Homo sapiens: one gene and its partner. The protein of the gene in region 1 purifies or fractionates together with the protein of each later gene. This does not show direct contact. Each region holds a gene or a part of one and is shown on either strand. Other genes may lie near its edges. The genes, in order: ACADS and DPEP1.

Region 1 (4,871 bases):
ACGAGGTCGGGAGTTCAAGACCAGCCTGGCCAAGATGGTGAAAACCCGTCTCTACTAAAAATACAAAAATTAGCTGGGCGTGATTATGGGCACCTGTAATCTCAGCTACTCGGTAGGCTGAGGCAGAGAATTGCTTGAACCTGGGAGGAAGAGGTTGCAGTGAGCCGAGATCTGCACTACTGCACTCCAGCCTGGGCAACAGAACAATACTCTGTCACAAAATAAAATAAAATAAAATAAAATAAAATAACATGTTTGCAGGAATGAGATTGTATAAAAGGGCTCGTGAAAAGCAACGGTTCCCTCCCGTCCCCATCCCTGTCCCCGTCCCTGTCCCTGTCCCCGTCCCTGTCCCTGTCCCTGCTCTCCCAGAGATAAGTGGTTTTACTTGTTCCTTTTTGAAGTTAGGTAGATTCTGTGGTCCACATTTCCCATATTACTCACCTGAAAGTAATAATACTATTATTATTATTTTGTTTTTGGTAGAGATGGGGTCTTGCTATGTTGCCCAGACTGGTCTCGAACTCCTGGCCTCAAGCAATCCCCTCACCTTGGTCTCCCAAAGTGCTGGGATTACAGGTGTGATCACTGCTCCTGGCCCACTCTTAATATGATTATTACCCAGAATTAAGAGTCCCAAGCTCTTATCCTTCATTCATTCTCTCACTGGCCTTGGGCATGTAGCAGTGAGCAAGAGCACACACAGTCTGTGCCCTCGTGGTGAAGGCAAAAGACCTTAATCCAGAGAAGCACGTTCATCCCTGAGAAATTCCAGCCGCAGAAGTGCTGCAGGAGAGGGACTGAAGGATTTGACTCAGCGAGGCTGGGGATGGCAGCCCAAAGCAGCGAGGCCTGAGCTGCGATCAGAAGGAGAGGAGGGGCAATAACCAGCTGAGGGATAGGAGGTGGCATGTGCAGAGGCCCTGTGGTGGGGAGGGTGCGTGTGTGTGGATGTGCAGAGGGGGCTGGACGAAGGTCAGTGTGGCTCACGCTGTCCTGCTCCTTACCTCTGAGTTCCCTGAAAGCATCCTGTGCCTTCTGCTTGCTCGCTGCCGTGGCTGTGGACGGAGCGGGGAGCAGGCGTGGAGGCGGGGGCAGGACAGCTTGAATGAGAAGTGCCATCATATAGACCTCAGTGGGACTGGGTCTTCAGCTTCTGGACTTGGGGATCCCTTGTGCGTGGCTGGGGTCACATGGCCTGAGTTTCTGCAGGGCACTGCCTCGGGGGCAGGAGGGTTTGGGCTTGGGGAGGGTGGGCTCGCCCCCGGCAGCTGCCCATGGCGTGCCGTCCTTCCCTGTGCCCAGGTGAAGAAGATGGGCGGGCTTGGGCTTCTGGCCATGGACGTGCCCGAGGAGCTTGGCGGTGCTGGCCTCGATTACCTGGCCTACGCCATCGCCATGGAGGAGATCAGCCGTGGCTGCGCCTCCACCGGAGTCATCATGAGTGTCAACAACGTGAGCCCCCTCCCAGGCCCCTGGGACACACGGGTGGAGGGAGGCTCCCGTGAGCGGGCAGGCTCTGGCCTCGGCTCCCAGCCCTGATCTCTCTGGAGACGTCACAGGCCTTGGTCCTACTGGGTAGGCCCTGGACAGAACAGGCCCTGAGGTGCAGCCCGCAGGTGGGCAGGATGCGCCTGGGCCTGGGGCCTCCGACCGCTCCCCGCTGTCCTCCTAGTCTCTCTACCTGGGGCCCATCTTGAAGTTTGGCTCCAAGGAGCAGAAGCAGGCGTGGGTCACGCCTTTCACCAGTGGTGACAAAATTGGCTGCTTTGCCCTCAGCGAACCAGGTACCTGCCCTGTCCCCTCACCTGTCCTTAGGGTGACAGGCCCAGAGGGGAGGAGAGGAAGGTGCTAGGCCAACTGCCCACTGCTTCGGAGGCCAGAGGGGAGGCTCCCCGTGTGGTTGGTAGGGTGAGCGCTCTTGCCACCGCGGCGCTGGGAGGAAGATTGCCTTCGGGGTCCCCTGGTTTAAGACGCCAGCTCCTGCACACCCCCCTCGCCCTCTGGTCCCATCACTGAGAGCTTTGGGACCCTCATCTTTGGAGCCCGAGTCATAGGGTTTCGTGTCTGCCAGCAGGGGTGTGGAGGGAGTGAGGCTGGTGCCCTTAGGTTGTGTGGGGTGGGGCGTGCGCTGAGCCCTGGGTCTGTGTGGGCAGGGAACGGCAGTGATGCAGGAGCTGCGTCCACCACCGCCCGGGCCGAGGGCGACTCATGGGTTCTGAATGGAACCAAAGCCTGGATCACCAATGCCTGGGAGGCTTCGGCTGCCGTGGTCTTTGCCAGCACGGACAGAGCCCTGCAAAACAAGGTGGGCCCACCCAGAGAGGGGTTCAGCCGGATCCTGGGCTGCTGTCATTTCTGTTTCTAGGGCCTTCTCTCCTTGGCCCGACTGGACCTATTTTTGCTCTGGGGCAAGTGGGCTGTCCCTGTCCCTCCTCAGCTGCCACTGAAGCCTGCACCTTCCCCAGAAGCCGGCAGAGGGTGTCAAGGCCTGAGCTTCTGAGGGAGGTGGGGAGGGGACCGGGTTGGTGTTGGGTGTGCTGGTGTGAGGGTGTGGCTGAGGGGCAGCTCTGAGAAAACCACCCGCCTCTCCTTTCAGGGCATCAGTGCCTTCCTGGTCCCCATGCCAACGCCTGGGCTCACGTTGGGGAAGAAAGAAGACAAGCTGGGCATCCGGGGCTCATCCACGGCCAACCTCATCTTTGAGGACTGTCGCATCCCCAAGGACAGCATCCTGGGGGAGCCAGGGATGGGCTTCAAGATAGCCATGGTGAGCCCGGCAGTGGGGGTGGCACCTTGAGGCCAGGCCCGCGCCCCGGCTGGCGGGCCACTGACCAGGGCGGTCCCCACAGCAAACCCTGGACATGGGCCGCATCGGCATCGCCTCCCAGGCCCTGGGCATTGCCCAGACCGCCCTCGATTGTGCTGTGAACTACGCTGAGAATCGCATGGCCTTCGGGGCGCCCCTCACCAAGCTCCAGGTCATCCAGGTAATGGTGGCAGCTTTAGGAGCTGGGCCTAGAGGCTGGACAGCGGGCGGAGAGTGTGGCCTCCTGACTGCTCTCCGTCCTCCTCCCCCTCCCTTCTGTCCCCTGGAGGGGCAGCTGCTGACCTGTGGTGTGGGGTGGGGCTATTGCAGTTCAAGTTGGCAGACATGGCCCTGGCCCTGGAGAGTGCCCGGCTGCTGACCTGGCGCGCTGCCATGCTGAAGGATAACAAGAAGCCTTTCATCAAGGTGCCCACAGGGGTCCCCGAGCCATGGCCCAGAATGTGGTGGGCCCAGGGACGGGGAGAGGTTGGGGCGGGTCTCTGCTCCTTGGCCCCGTGGGTCAGAGGTGTGGGCCTGGGGTTTACAGCCCCATGGGGAGGCTCCACAGGCCTCCCCTGCTGAGGGAGTGGGGGAGCAGGGGATGGAGGGGTCCCCTCAAGGGAAGGCTCTGACTGTACCCCCATGTTTAGGAGGCAGCCATGGCCAAGCTGGCCGCCTCGGAGGCCGCGACCGCCATCAGCCACCAGGTGAGTGTCCACAGTGAGCTCTGAGGGGGCCAGCTGCCCCTTCTCCAGCTTTCCCCACGCCGGGGTCTTCTCCCTCCTGAGCCACTGTTCTCATCTCAGGCCATCCAGATCCTGGGCGGCATGGGCTACGTGACAGAGATGCCGGCAGAGCGGCACTACCGCGACGCCCGCATCACTGAGATCTACGAGGGCACCAGCGAAATCCAGCGGCTGGTGATCGCCGGGCATCTGCTCAGGAGCTACCGGAGCTGAGCCCGCGGCGGACTGCCCCAGGACTGCGGGAAGGCGCGGGAGCCAGGGGCCTCCACCCCAACCCCGGCTCAGAGACTGGGCGGCCCGGCGGGGGCTCCCTGGGGACCCCAGATGGGCTCAGTGCTGCCACCCAGATCAGATCACATGGGAATGAGGCCCTCCGACCATTGGCAGCTCCGCCTCTGGGCCTTTCCGCCTCCTCACCACTGTGCCTCAAGTTCCTCATCTAAGTGGCCCTGGCCTCCTGGGGGCGGGGTTGTGGGGGGGCTGAGCGACACTCAGGGACACCTCAGTTGTCCTCCCGCGGGCCCTGGTGCCCTGGCATGAAGGCCCAGTGCGACAGGCCCTTGGTGGGGTCTGTCTTTTCCTTGAGGTCAGAGGTCAGGAGCAGGGCTGGGGTCAGGATGACGAGGCCTGGGGTCCTGGTGTTGGGCAGGTGGTGGGGCTGGGCCATGGAGCTGGCCCAGAGGCCCCTCAGCCCTTTGTAAAGTCTGATGAAGGCAGGGGTGGTGATTCATGCTGTGTGACTGACTGTGGGTAATAAACACACCTGTCCCCCAGTCTGTGTCCTCGCCCTCTCCTGGGTGCTCCGGGGAGGGATGGTGGTCTCTGCACAGAGTCCTGCTCTCTGACAGTCTCACCCTGTGAGTGTTGGGGGTCTTGGGGAGGGGCCTGGCCACCTGGGAGGTTCCTGAGTTCCGGCAGAGGCCAGATTGGCCAAGGAGGCAGTTCAGGAATAGGAACTGGGTCCTGCAGGCCTCAGGGAGTGGCCCCTGGGGAGGGAGGGTGGGCCAGGCAGGGCCAGTGGGCTAGAAGGGGTTCTCTACGCAGGACCAGCCTCCAGGCAGGAGGAAGGAAGGCCCCAGATTGCCAGAGTCGGGGAGCAAAGCTGTGGAGGCCTCGAGCCCCAGGTGGGAGAACACAGAACCTCGAGAAGCAGCCATTGTGCTCACTAGCGCGCTCGGGGGCGGCCCTGGCCAGCCAGTGCGGGGGCTTGCCCTGGTCCTGGTGCCTGCAGGGCTTTCTCTGGGCAAAGGTGCCCCTGAAGCCAAGGTCCAAGCTCTTAACCCTCTGGGCCAGTGTCGATCTCAGCAGCTGGAAGA
Region 2 (7,188 bases), on another chromosome or scaffold:
GGGAGCGGGGCGGAAAAGAACACAGCAAACCTTGGAAACCGCCCTCCGGAGACCAGACGCACAACCCCCAAGAAAACACGAAAGAACCGTGCTGGGAGACAAAACAGAGGAAATGGAGTGCACAGGATAAGCAGGAAGAAAGCCAGGACAGGAGGCAGAAAGGAAGCTCAGACAGTGCAACCCCTGCCTGAAACCCTGGCCAGACGGAGCTCAGAAAGGAGGGGAAGAAGAGGGATACGGGCGACTGGAAATTCCCTGGACCGGAGGCAGAGGAAACGCTCCAGGGAGTGAAAAAGCCTCACACTAAAGCACGTGGCTGAGAAGTCGTGGCGCTCCGAGGAAAGAGGCAGCTCCAGGCCTGGAGGGAACAGCGGTTGCCCACACACAGCCGGGCCCATCCACCACACATGCACAGACGGACTGTGGTGCGGTCACCTCCTGAGGGACAAAGGTTTCCCGCCCAAAGTGCACATCCAGAGAAACTACTGATGAGGGCAGAATAAAGACAGACAGGAGGACTGGGGAGTGAATTCCTGCCGACCCGCTGCTAGGGAATGGTTGCAGGGCCAACTCTAATGGAATAGGGTTTAGTCTGCTTTGCATTGCTCCAAAGAAATCCCCGAGGCTGGGTCATCTATAGAGAAAAGGGGTGGGTTTGGCTCATGGTTGTGGAGGCTGAATGGGAAGCGTGGCACCAGCGTCTGCCTTTGGTGAGGACCCCAGGGAACCTCTCATCACGGCAGAAGGGGAGGGAGCAGGTGTCACTGGAAGGATGGCCTGGACCGTAATAGTCCATGTCCTCGGCGTTTGAACAAAGAAGTGGACAAAACGTGCAAAGTAACGAACAAAACACGGAAAGAAAGCAGCGAAAGCAGGGATTTATTAAAGCGAGAAAGGTCGGGAGTGGGGTGAGAGGGGCGCTGTTACATAGTTTTCTGGGGTTTGTTTTTTTTTTGTTTTGAGAGGGAGTCTCACACCGTCGCCCGGGCTGGAGTGCAGTGGCGCCATCTCGGCTCACTGCAACCTCTGCCTCCCAGGTTCAAGCGATTCTCCAGCCTCAGCCTCCGGAGTAGCTGGGATGACAGGCGCCCGCAACCACGCCCGGCTAATTTTTGTGTTTTTAGTTGAGACGGGGTTTTTCTTTGTTGGCCAGGCTGGTCTTGAACTCCCGGCCTCAGGTGATACACCCGCCGCACTCTCCCAAAGTGCTGGGATGACAGGTGTGAGCCACCCCCTCGGCCAGTTTTCTGGGTCTTAAGGGCACCTTTCATGGTTCCTATACCTCTTATCTGGATGAAAGATTTGGTCCGTGGCTAATCAAAGGCTGAGGTAAACTGGTGTCTGCAGATGAAAGGGTGGCCCGCAGCCAGTCCACAGCACTTTCCTTTCCATCTGGGACATGGTGGTGGGGGCTGTACGAGAGCAGCCTTTGATCCTTTGCTACTGGGCGTGGGGCTCTTCCTCAGGGTGTAGTTTTTGGAAGTTGGTGTTAATTGGCCCTGGGTTCCCTGCCCCAGACCTTGAAGTTTTTCCTGGATTCAGCGTGCTTTGGCCTCGGACTCTCTCCCCCTGACCTTGGTGTTTTCTCTTTTAGGAAGTCAGCACAAATTAGCGTCCCATTCCCTGCCCCAGGCCTCGCTGTTTTTCCTTGATTCAGCACGAATTGGCCTAAGTTCCCTGCCCCCAGACCCTATTCTCCTGCTCCCAGGGCATCACGTGCAGAGAGGGAGGCAGAGAGTGAGGGGGGAGGTACCAGGCTCGTTTTAACCGTCAGTTCTCTTCCCAACGAACTCATTACCTCCAGAACTGCACCAAGCCATTGATGAGGGGCCCGTCCCCATGACACAAAACCTCCCAACTGGGATCCAGTTTCCACGTGAGATCTGGACAAACATTCAAACTCTATCAGGACTATAAACCAAACAAAGGTGGAAGACCTTCAGTGCAGGCATTAAGTGAGCACTGACATTCCAGGCTGGGAGTAGCAGGTTGGACGAGGGGAGGCTCTGGGGGCAGGGAGGGAGGTTGCAGAGTCCAGAGCTTGGAAGATGGAAGATAAGGGCACCCAGTGTAGGGCAGGAGAAGAAAGGCAACTGGAAACTCTGGGACAAACTATAAAACCCCACGGAAAAGACAGGTGTAAGGTGACTACCTTGATCCGAGGGTGATCTGAGTGGCTGGTACCTTTGTGCTCACAGCAGGACTGTCGTAAAGTAGGTACATCCATGACTTCTACTTGACAGACGAAGAGACTGAGGCCGAGAAATTGAACCAGCTCACCCACGCTGCCCTTGAACAGTGGTCGTGAGAGGGGAACCCACAGCCTACCAGGACACGGGGCCCTGCCCAACCCCCAGGACGCCCTCGTGTTGAATTAAGTCCGTGGCTTTGAGCCTCAGAAACGGTGCAAAATGCAGTCCACGCGTGGCTTTCGGCCCCGGTCTGGTGCTCGGAAGACATGTGCCTCCCTCTACCTGCCCCCCGTCCTCCCGCCACTGTGAGGCCCTGAGAGGCCCTGAGATTCTTGCGATGTGTGAATAAGGGTGCCGCATTTTCATGTTGCACTGGGCACTGAATGGTGGAGCTGAGTGATGCGGTTTGGTTCTGTGTCCCCACCCAAATCTCATCTCAGATTATAATCCCCACCTGTCAAGGGAGAGACCCGCTGGAGGTGAGTGCATCGTGGGGCCATTCACCCCATGTTCTCGTGGTAGCGAGAAAGTTCTCACAAGATCTGTTTGTTGTTGTTTTTGTTGGTGGTGGTGGTTTTTAAGACGGAGTTTCACTCTTGTTGCCCAAGCTGGCTGGAGTGCAGTGGCACAATCTTGGCTCCCCGCAACCTCCACCTCCCGGGTTCAAGCAATTCTCCTGCCTCAGCCTCCCGAGTAGCTGGGATTACAGGTATGAGCCACCGCGCCTGGCTAATTTTGTATTATTAGTAGAGATGGGGTTTCTCCATGTTGGTCAGGCTGGTCTCGAACTCCGGACCTCAGGTGATCCACCCGCCTCGGCCTCCCAAAGTGCTTGGATCACGCGGTGGCGTGCGCCACCGCACCCAGCCTAAGATCTGGTTTTTAAAAGTGTTTGGCAGTCCCCCCCTCAAACTCTCTCCCCCGCTGCCATTTAAGACATGCCTTGCCTCCCTTTGCCTTCGGCCATGATTGTAATTTTCCTGAGGCCTCCCCAGCCATGTGGAACTGTGAGTCAATGAAGGCTTTTTTCCTTTAAAAATTACCCAGTCTTGGCCAGGCGCGGTGGCTCATGCCTGTAATCCCAACAGCTTGGGAGGCCGAGGCGGGTGGATCACTTGGGGTCAGGAGTTTGAGACCACCCTGGCCAACATGGTGAAACTGTCTGTAGTAAAAATAAAAAATTAGTCAGACGTGGGGCCAGGTATGGTGGCTCACACCTGTAATCCCAACACTTTGGGAGGCCGAGGCGGGCGGATCACGAGGTCAGGAGATCGAGACCATCCTGGCTAAAACGGTGAAAACTTGTCTCTACTAAAAAAAAAGAAAAAAAAGAAAAAAATTAGCCGGGCGTGGTGGCGGGCGCCTGTAGTCCCAGCTTCTCTGGAGACTGAGGCAGGAGAATGGCATGAACCCGGGAGGCAGAGCTTGCAGTGAGCTGAGGTTGCGCCACTGCACTCCAGCCTGGGCAATAGAGTGAGACTCCGTCTCAAAAAAAAAAAAAAAAAGTCAGATGTGGGATCAGGCATGGTGGCTCACACCTGTAATCCCAGCACTGTGGGAGGCCGAGGAGGGCACATTATTTTAGGTCAGGAGTTCAAGACCAGCCTGACCAACATGATGAAACCCTGTCTCTACTAAAAATACAAAAAAAATTAGCTGGGTGTGGTGTGCGCCTGTAATCCCAGCTACTCCGGAGGCCGAGGCATGAGAATCAGTTGAGGCAGAGGTTGCCGTGAGCCGAGATTGTGCCACCGCACTCCAGCCTGGGTGACCTACTGAGACTCTGTCTCAGAGAGAGAGAGAGGAAGGAGGGGAGGGGAGAAGAGGGAAAGGAAGGGCAGGGGAACCCAGTCTTGGATATTTCTTCTTTTTTTTTTTTTTTTTTTTTTTTTTTGAAACGGAGTCTTGCTCTGCCACCCAGGCTGGAGTACAGTGTTGCAATCTCGGCTCACTGCAACCTCCGCCTCCCTGGTTCAAGTGATTCTCCTCCAAAAGCCTCCAAGTAGCTGGGATTACGGGCAAGGGCCACCATGCCCAGTAAATTTTTGTATTTTTAGTAGAGAAGGGGTTTCACCATGTTGGTCAGGCTGGTCTCAAACTCCTAACCTCGTGATCCTCCTGCCTTGGCCTCCCAAAGGGTATTTTTGTTTGTTTTTGAGACGGAGTCTCGCTCTTTCGCCCAGGCGGGAGTGCAGTGGTGCAATCTCGGCTCACTGCAAGCTCTGCCTCCCGGGTTCATGCCATTCTCCTGCCTCAGCCTCCCAAGTAGCTGGGACTCCAGGCACCCGCCACCATGCCCGGCTAATTTTTTTTATTTTTGGTAGAGACGGGGTTTCACCATGTTAGCCAGGATGGTCTCGATCTCCTGACCTGGTGATCCACCCGCCTCGGCCTCCCACAGTGCTGGGATTACAGGCGTGAGCCACCACACCCGGCCACAAAAGGTATTTCTTTCTTTCTTTCTTTTCTTTCTTTTTTTTTTTTTTTTGTGAGATAGAGATTTACTCTTGTCGCCCAGGCTGGAGTGCAATGGCGCGATCACAGCTCATGGCATCCTCCACCTCCCGGATTCAAGCGATTCTCCTGCCTCAGCCTCCCGAGTAGCTGGGATTACAGGCATGCACCACCATGCCTGGCTAATTTTTGTATTTTTAGTAGAGACGGGGTTTCACCATGTTGCCCAGGCTGATCTCGAACTCCTGACCTCAGGTGATCCGCCCGCCTCAGCCTCCCACAGTGCTGGGATTACAGGTGTGAGCCACCTTGCCCAGCCCCCAAAGGGTATTTCTTTATAGCAGTGTGAAAATGGACAAATACAGTGGCCTCAAGTTCTCTCCTTAGTGGCACCTGAGGGAGTGTGGTGCTCTTGGAAATGCTCTCCTGTCACTCAGTTTCTGCCTCTGAAGCGACAAGCAGAACATGGATGTTCTCAGAGTCCAGGGCTGTGTAGATAGTATTGGAGCTGAAGGCAAAAGGAAAAATCAGAATATTGGGCCTGTCTTTATTTTAAAGGTTTGTGGGGGAGGGGGGGCGGTTTGTGTTTTGTTTGTTTGTTTTTCTGAGATGGAGTCTTGATCTGTTGCCCAGGCTGAAGTGCAGTGGCATGATCTTGGCTCACAGCAACCTCCGCCTCCCGGGTTCAAGTGATTCTCCTGCCTCAGCCTCCTGAGTAGCTGGGACTACAGGTGCGCACCACCATGCCCAGCTAATTTTTGTCTTTTTAATACAGAGAGGGTTTCACCATATTGGCCAGGCTTGTCTTGAACTCCTGACCTCAAGTGATCCATCCGCTTCGGCCTCCCAAAGTGCTGGGATTATAGGCGTGAATGACTGTGCCCAGCTATTTTAAAGTTTTATACTTTGTTCATTATGGATTTTTTTTACATGAATTCTGATTTTTTTAAAATATTGAATGAAAATACGATTTATCATGACCTGGGCATGGTGGCTCATGCCTGTAATCCCCGCAGTTTGAGAGGCCAAAGCAGGCAGGTTTGCTTGAGGCCAGGAGTTCGAGACCAGCCTGGGAAACATGGGGAAGACCCCATCTCTACAAAAAATACAAAAATTAGCCAGACGTGGTGGTGCACGCCTGTGGTCCCAGCTACTCAGGAGGCTCAGGCAGGAGGGTTGCTTGGGCCCAGGAGGTGCAGGTTGCAGTGAGCCGAGAGGGAGCCACTGTCCTCCAGCTGGGGCGATCCTCCTTCCCTGCCGGGCTCCCCCCACCCCCCCCCGAAGCCTCTGACCAGTTTTCCCTCCTGCTCCTCCCAGCAGGCCTGGTTTAGCCCCAGTGCTCAGCCCACTGTCCCCCAGAACCCCAGACACCACCCAGCCCTGGGATTAAGATTCTTCCGTCAGGGCACCACCTGGGAACTGTGTGCCCAGGAGCCCTCGGGCGACTTGAATGTGCTCTGCTGAGTCCTAGAGAGGCCCCGGTTCTAAGGACGTGTCTAGCTGCTTGGCCTGAAGCTCTGTAGCTGGAGTGTGGGTCCCTGTGACGCTGGAGGGCTGCAGGCCGGGGGTGCGGACCCCTCAGCAACAGGGCAGGCGCCAGGGGCACACCTGGCTGTGCAGCAGCTTCCTGGAACGCCCTAATGTTTATCCCCCATGGCAAGTCACGTAAGATGATTTTTACGTGGAAAGGGGTGCTTTATGAGAATGCACTATTTGAATGACTGTTGTCTTGCTTGCAGATCTAGGCCCCCGGGTCCTGAGGGAGGTGGTAGTAATAACAGTAGCACAGCTAGAGCCAACAGCCACTCACCACTCATCTGGGCCTGCTCTCAGCCTGCTGTCCTTTCATCTGGGCTCTAGCTCCACCCCTGGGTCTGGGATCCCAGCTTCTTACTATGCCTCCGCCTAGCCCAGACAGCAACGCCCAGTCATTGAGTGTCCGGCCTTCCATCCTACCCACCCTGGTGGGGAATGTGCTGGTTACTTATTGAACATGGGAAGCTATAAACAGGAGAGCAGCCACCTGTCATCACTTCCACCCACACCTCTGGTGCCTCTCCTGGCAGGCAGAGTGGCTCCTCACAGCCTGAAGCTCATCCTTCTGCACGGGCCAGCCAGGCCAGCACAGAGGCACCAGGGCAGCAGTGCACACAGGTCCCCGGGGACCCCACCATGTGGAGCGGATGGTGGCTGTGGCCCCTTGTGGCCGTCTGCACTGCAGACTTCTTTCGGGACGAGGCAGAGAGGATCATGAGGGACTCCCCTGTCATTGATGGGTGAGTGCTCACCTGAGCCAGGTGCTTAGGGAACCAGGACTGGGAACTGGGGCTGGGAGAGCGGGGCTGGGGGAGCCGGGGCTGGGGGAGCGGGGCTGGGGGAGCCAGGGCTGGGGGTGCCGGGGCTGGGGGTGCCGGGGCTGGGGGAGCCGGGGTTGGGGGTGCCGGGGCTGGGGGTGCCGGGGCTGGGGGAGCCGGGGCTGGGGGTGCCGGGGCTGGGGGTGCCGGGGCTGGGGGAGTTTGGCCTGGGGAGTTGGGGCTGGGGG

What was found.
Region 2: the proteins of ACADS (region 1) and DPEP1 purify together in Homo sapiens (affinity purification with mass spectrometry; 2 studies listed by BioGRID and IntAct, with this or other methods). This does not show direct contact.

The regions. Positions count from the first base shown.
Region 1 is NC_000012.12:120,735,681-120,740,551, forward strand, and holds the end of ACADS (short-chain specific acyl-CoA dehydrogenase, mitochondrial isoform 1 precursor), read left to right. Parts: intron 1-1,305; coding exon 1,306-1,455; intron 1,456-1,675; coding exon 1,676-1,787; intron 1,788-2,156; coding exon 2,157-2,308; intron 2,309-2,368; coding exon of another isoform or gene 2,369-2,508; intron 2,509-2,599; coding exon 2,600-2,770; intron 2,771-2,852; coding exon 2,853-2,990; intron 2,991-3,139; coding exon 3,140-3,235; intron 3,236-3,459; coding exon 3,460-3,516; intron 3,517-3,615; coding exon 3,616-3,768; 3' UTR 3,769-4,328; downstream 4,329-4,871. UniProt on the Homo sapiens protein: Short-chain specific acyl-CoA dehydrogenase is one of the acyl-CoA dehydrogenases that catalyze the first step of mitochondrial fatty acid beta-oxidation, an aerobic process breaking down fatty acids into acetyl-CoA and allowing the production of energy from fats.
Region 2 is NC_000016.10:89,623,593-89,630,780, forward strand, and holds part of DPEP1 (dipeptidase 1 isoform a precursor), read left to right. Parts: intron 1-5,362; exon of another isoform or gene 5,363-5,377; intron 5,378-6,677; exon of another isoform or gene 6,678-6,712; 5' UTR 6,713-6,818; coding exon 6,819-6,922; intron 6,923-7,188. UniProt on the Homo sapiens protein: Hydrolyzes a wide range of dipeptides including the conversion of leukotriene D4 to leukotriene E4. Hydrolyzes cystinyl-bis-glycine (cys-bis-gly) formed during glutathione degradation.